Linked DNA regions of Homo sapiens. The protein of the gene in region 2 interacts with the protein of the main gene of each other region in a pairwise test. Each region holds a gene or a part of one and is shown on either strand. Other genes may lie near its edges. The genes, in order: FHL2 and SAXO2.

Region 1 (3,826 bases), on a different chromosome or scaffold from region 2:
CTCTCTCTCTCTCTCTCTCTCTCTCCTTATGTATGTATCTATGTGTATACATTTCCTTGATTGATTCTGTTTCTCTGGAGAACGTGACTAACACAGAAAGTCAAGACAGGTGAAAAATTCAAAATCCGGGAAATATGCATACTTTTTATGTCATGGTTGGTGCTAACAGTTAAAGTCTTTAAACAGCCCCTAGAGTCCCCAGTGGAAGCTTCCTTGGGCCCTTGTTCAGGAAACTAGTAAGGGTTTAATTTGTTTTTCAATTAATGTCGTGGTTCTTATTGTTACTGAGTGTTGTGTCTCTGCAGTGACTCCCTGTGGGGCAGGACACAGGTCAGCCTGGCTTTCTACGGGCTTCAATTCTCATTTGCACTGTCGCACAGCACTGGGGCCCGAGTTTCCAGCCTCTGCAGGATCCACATGATCTTAGAAGAGGCCTTCTTGCCTGGAGCTGCCCCATCTAAAGTCACCATGCAGCCCTTCCAGCTGTTTTCCCTTACAGCTGCCAACAGGGCTGGGACTGTGTCAGCCTGGGCATTTTTCTTCCCTGTCATAGTGTGTCACAGTTGTTTTAAAGTTATATTAACCAGAGAAATGTAGTGGCAGTAAGAAACCATCTTACCAAAGGTCAGATTACCTCCTTGCCTTTTTAAAAAATGATTATTCCTTATCCTACATAACTTTCTTTTTTTTTTGAGACGGAGTCTCACTCTGTCACCCAGGCTGGAGTGCAGTGGCGTGATCTCAGCTCACTGCAAGCTCCATCTCCTGGGTTCAGGCCATTCTCCTGCCTCAGCCTCCCGAGTAGCTGGGACTACAGACGCCCGCCACTATGCCCGGCTAATTTTTTGTATTTTTAGTAGAGACAGCGTTTTACCATGTTAGCCTGGCTGGTCTCAAACTCCTGACCTCGTGATCCGCCCTCCTTAGCCTTGCAAAGTGCTGGGATTACAGGGGTGAGCCACCACACCTGGCATCCTACATATATTTCTAAACTATTTCCCATATGTCAGTCTCTTCAGTATTTCTTTATTATCAAAAACAAAGCAAACCAACATGATGAAACCCCATCTCTACTAAAAATACAAAAATTAGCCAGGTGTGGTGGTGCACGCCTGTAGTCTCAGCTACTTAGGAGGCTAAGGCAGAAGAATCTCTTGAACCTGGGAGGCAGAGGTTGCAGTGAGTCAAGATTGCACCACTGAACCACATTGGCCAGGCCGATTTCAAACTCCTGACCTCAAGTGATCCACCCACCTCAGCCTCCCAAAGTACTGGAATTACAGGTATAAGCCACCGCACCCAGCTTCTTTCTGTATTTTGAAATTCCACATATTTTTGTCCACTTTGCTTTTTAAAATAAAAGATTCTGCTCTCCTACATAAAAAACAAAACAAAACAAATAACTCCCCCCACATACACACACAAAAAAACCATGAGGGACACAGTCCCATCAACACACAAGGCACCTTTATTGCCATCCTCGGCACCTGGCCCAGTTGCGGCTGTGCCCTTTTTGACTGTCCGTCTAGAACACCAACTCTACAAGGGCAGAGGACCAGGTGCACCTCGGCTCACACCCTACGAATGCTCAGCTCGAGCCCAGTGCCTGGCACGCAAGGGCACCATGCACACTTGGTGAAATAACTGAATGAGTACAAATTCAGCAGGTAGAAGGGAAGAAAAGAGAAACTATCTATGGTGGTGGGAGAGTGGGGGCTGATGCAGGAGATGTATTTTTAAGGGGGATACCCACCATTTTCTTACTCTAACAATTTGACTGCATAACACTGCCCCACGTGCACAGCAAAAAGATCCCGTTACTGCCCATGATAGAACCTGTATGTCCCTGCTTCGTAAGTACTCTAAATACTCCTCTGCAGTTCAAGGTCAAACTGGAAAGTCAACACGAGTGTCTGGAACCAAGTCAATGTGAACAGGGGGTCAGAGGAACGTGCACAAGGCTTGAAGCTAGACTGGCTCACGCATGAGAAAGGAGTGCCTCCTGACCTGGCATGATGGTCTTCTTGCATTCCTGGCACTTGGATGAGTACTCGTTGGAATAGCAGTCTGTACAGAGCAGCTGGTCCTCCTTGGCAGCAAAGGGCTTGTCCACCAGTGAGTTTCTGCACTGCGAGCAGTGGAAACAGGCTTCATGCCAGTGCCGGTCCTTGTAAGACAAGTCCTGTGGGGCCAGACCACACAAGACAGTCAGAGGCAGGACAGGAGGGCTTGGACCCACAGCATAGGGGCCCCTTGCGAATCTGCAGGGCAAACAAGGAAAGAAGTTGGGCCGAGGCACCCTGGCGCACCCACATTCATGCCCCAGGACCACCTAACTGCTGAAATCAATTAAGACTAGGCTGCTTTTCTCTTGCTGCATTTTAGAGCAACAGGTTAGACAGATGTGCATGTATGCACATGTCTGTGTGTGAGAGATGCTTCTAAAAAACAAAGGGATTTCCCTTATGTATTGCCTGCAAGAAAGAGAAACAGAAAACATGAACACCTATCAATTCGTCTCACACCACATCCGGTGACAGAGAAACAGACTGCAGGACATCCTTGGCTGAGGGAGCCCTGCCCAACTCAGATCACTGTGGTCACCGGCATGGCAGAGAGGCTCTGGGTGTCGGGATGTTCACAGGAGGCCCAAGGACTGTTTGGTGGGAGACGGTCAGGAGAGACTGTGTGTGTGGGTGCTACCTCTGTGGGTGGCCGTGAGCTGGGGGAGGAAGGGAATTTCAGGCAGAGAAAGAGCACAGACACAGAAGATCTGGGGACGGGGGGCATGTCAGATTGGAGGGACCACAGGCCAGGGGCGAGGTGGGAGGGCCCCCCGGCCTGGCTGGACTGGAAGATATGGCTGCCTTTTTGCCTTTTATGTCTGTGTAGAGATTCCATTGATCCTGAAGGCAGTGGACAGCTGCTTTTCAACAGGAGAGTGAAGTGCTCAGACTGGGGGACGGGTAAGGATGTGGGAGTGGAGGGGCGTGAGGGTGGGAGAAGTGAGACAAAAACTGAGCACACATGAGAGAGGCCCTGAGAAGACAGACGTGTGCTTTTGAGTAAAAGATGAGGGAGAGAAAGGAGCCCCGCAGAAAACTCGACTCCACACTTGGCTTCATCTTGCCTGAGGAATAAGAGAACCCTCCATATTTGCCTTTTAAAAATGACATACGGCATTTTTAAAGTGCCAACACAAAATTAAAATAACAATCTCTTTATGCCCAGCTTTATCTTAGAAAGGATATGTTTCTATTGCTGTCTTTGTGTTCCCAGCTCTGACCCCAAATCATCATCCATTTATACATGAGGCAGAAACAGAGTATTAGGCTCTGCACGGTTTCCTGGGCAGGCTTCCAGTTGGTAGGTATCCTGAACAGGGCACAGGAGGGCTGTTCACGCGATGGCCCTGAAGAAGAGCCTGCCCACGATGTCTCTGTTACTGAAACCGAAGTCGAAGCTGGAGTTATGCTGAATGTAGGATGTGAAGACATGGATCTTGGCCTTGATTAGAAAGTCCTAAAACACCAGCTAACTCGGAACCAAAACTAGAACAAACAGTTCTCTTTTGCTGAAGTATGTGTGTGTGTGTGTGTGTGTGTGTGCGCGTGCGTGTGCACATGTGTGCATGTATGTGTGTTTTCCCGGAACCTGGAACCAAACTAGTTATTTGATTTAGTGATCTCTTTGCGCATTTTGTTTTAGTTCAAGGAATTTTAAAAATGTGAACGCTGAGACACTTTGAAGACAGTCATGACTATGGCCTTTGTGAGGGGTGACCTCTTGTGCTATCCCTGTTGGAAGTTTGCTTCCTAGAACATCT
Region 2 (3,131 bases):
AGGAGGCCTAACAGGAGAATGACTCAGGGATTGCTAGCTTTCCACCAACGTAGCTTGGAAGTCCCTTTAACTCTTTCACAGAGATAGAGGGTCCCTCTGTACCTATTTTTATGCTGTTCCCACCTTCCCATTTTTCTTGATCTGGCAATTTCCTACTTATCTTCCAAGATTCAGCTCACCTGTCCATCCTCTCCCTAAGGCAGACTTTCCTGAACTCCTAGGCTGAATGTCTTACATTGTTCTCTGTTTCAATCTCTATTTTCACACCTGTTATACTGAGTGTTAGATTATGGGGAAACGCCATTATTCATCTTCAATCCTTATCCCATGGCAAATTGCCTCTGGAAACTCTAGTAGATGTCTTATTAAGGGTGACCTTTGTCCAGGGAGGAGACCACCCCTATTAAATTACAGAGTGATTTGAATATCCAGCATTGGAATATGGGACGGGATGACAGAGTGCTGTAGTATTCCCTTCTTTTTAATTCTGATTACATTGTTTTGTATTTAAAAAGTAAGAACATCTACTTATGTATAGGTTAACCTAGACAGGACTTTATTAAAATGCTCTCTTAAAAAAAATTAGGTAAAGAAATGATTTCTTGAAAATCCATTCCTTTTATTGATTTTATTATGTTGCATGGAAATATAGTTTCACACACCATACTTTTACTAATAAATGTAAAGAACAAATTACTTTTGAACAATTAAAATAACCAAATATTGATTTTCAATAAAGTATATTTTGAAATAATTCTGAAGCCATAAAAGACTAAAATTCACTTTATGCTAAAATAAATCATATTCTCCCATAATGCAATTATTTAATTTTTTTAAAAAAAGAAACCACCCAATAAGAGTTTAATTCATTCGGAAATTTTTAGCATTTATAAATGCAATAGAGTGTTTCTACTATACTTACTGGCATCATTCTTTACCTTATCACTTATCTTCACACCGGAAGAGGTGAACCAGGTGATTATGCCCCCTGCTGGGGCTGGTTCTTCCTCTAAACAGTGACTTGGCCTGGCAATTAGGTGCAAAATTACCTACATTTACCCTAAAGATTTCTTCAGAGCTGTCAGTCTTCCTAAAACTACCCTAGCAAATAATACTTTTTCCTTTCTGCAAATACTGTTATTCAAACCACTGTATTTACCCCATTCCAAGCTTTCCATTCTCTGTTAAGAATTTCTCAGGTGCTCATGAAGTTTTAAAGGACAAGACTCCTCTCAGAAGTATATACTACTCATAAGCTCAAAGCAAATTAGGTTATTTTACAATCCTTGCTACAGGCCAGAAAATGAGCATTGAGTAAGTAATTATCCTAATTTGAAAAGGAGAAAACAAGTACAAAAAGAGATTGAGCAATTTTAAAAAAAAATCCTCCACATTTGTACTTTAAGGATTAAAATGTACCATACAGTCTGATGCTCAAAACAAACTCTTTTTGAGAACAGACATCATTTTACAAATAAAGACACTGAGGCTCAGAGATATGAGTCACTGCCTAAGGTAGTACAAATAGAAATCTATATTATTAGAACTTAAACTCAGGTTGGGTATAGTGGCTCATGCCTGTAATCCCAGTGCTTTGGGAAGCCAAGGTGGGATTCAATAGCAGCCTGGCCAATAGATTGAACAGCCTGACTAATACAGCAAGAACCTGTCTCTACAAAGTATGTTTAAAAAAAATAGCCAGGTGTGGTGGCACACCCTTGTAGTCCCAGCTATTTGGGAGGCTGAGGCAGGAGGATCACTTGAGCTCAGGAGGCTGAGGCTGCAGTAAGCTGTGATTATGCCACTGGACTCCAGCACGGGTGACAGTGAGACCCTGTCTCTAAAAATAATAATAATTATTAGTCAGAACTTGAACTCAAGTCCTTCGATTCCCAGCACACAGAGCCTTTCCTTGCCACACCACAGTGCCTCTTGCTAACTTGAACATGGTGAGGAGCAGTGCAGCAGTCTGTATACCACCAACCAAAACTTGATTCAGTGGATGCTATGTAGATGCCGTGAAGTCTGAGTATAATGAATCCTGTTGCCTTGGAAGAGGAATCCATGTATCATTTTCAATGTTGTTCTAGATAATCCTGATGTGCTTGATAAATGACAAATGGTATGTGAATAACCATACAATTGCCATAATTATAAACAGAATTACAAATGATAATAGACTGGGGACAAGCTACTAAGCAGTATGTTGAATACTAAAATAGTTCTCATGGGAATGCATATTATTCAACCTTCTGAAATGCACATTAAAGAACAATCTTGATTAAAATATCAATAAAAAATGGTTTTAAGATTCTGATTTCTTATAATATATTTTCCAATTTTCTTGTTTAAAAATATAAAAAATGATTTATTATATCATAAATTTTTTAACTATAAAAATTGAGTTTTCTCTTGGAAAAACAACAACTTGCTAGTACCTTCCTTTTAAGCACATTTTGGTTATTAGAAGGCCTTCACTGCAGGAATAATCTTGCGGAAGAATTTATGACCTTGGGAATTTGTATTGTCGAAAATATAACCTGGAGGAGAGGGATAGCTGGCTGGGCAAATTTCCTGTCTTTTCGGTGTGTACTCTACAGAGTACATGGTTACATCATCAAATGGAACAGAACTCTTAAAAGCAATATTTAAAGGTTTGCAACTCTCTGTTGGGATCAATTCATGTGGCACATAGTGAGATCTGAAAGTGCTCAAACCATCAAATTTTCCAGATGGGTTGGGAATCTGCTGCTGCTTCTTAATAAGTCCTTGACGACAACTTTCCCATGCTGGAAAATCTTCTTTCATGATGCTTTTTCCTTGGAAAGGAAAATTGTTACTTCTTTTTTGAGAAACTGGCCTGATGGGAACAACATGGTTGGCCTGATATGGAACATAGTCAAGATGGCTTGTGCTGTTTAACAGCATGCTACCTGTAGGAGGCACATACTCTGGTACTTTCTTGACCTCAGGTGGTGGGATTTCCCATGGTTGAAAACTTTCACGGAATTCAGTGCTTCCTTCAAACAGAGCATTCTGGGTCACTCTGGTGTGTACAGGTCTGCAGAGTTTTGCAGTTTCACCAATGAGACCCTGAAAGTCACACCGGTGAGTTGTGAGATCCTCAAAGC

What was found.
Region 1: the proteins of SAXO2 (region 2) and FHL2 interact in binary tests that used the Homo sapiens proteins (3 or more experiments, as listed by UniProt).

The regions. Positions count from the first base shown.
Region 1 is NC_000002.12:105,371,552-105,375,377, forward strand, and holds part of FHL2 (four and a half LIM domains protein 2), read right to left. Parts: intron 2,183-3,826; coding exon 2,008-2,182; intron 1-2,007. UniProt on the Homo sapiens protein: May function as a molecular transmitter linking various signaling pathways to transcriptional regulation. Negatively regulates the transcriptional repressor E4F1 and may function in cell growth.
Region 2 is NC_000015.10:82,282,395-82,285,525, reverse strand, and holds the end of SAXO2 (stabilizer of axonemal microtubules 2), read right to left. Parts: coding exon 2,464-3,131; 3' UTR 599-2,463; downstream 1-598.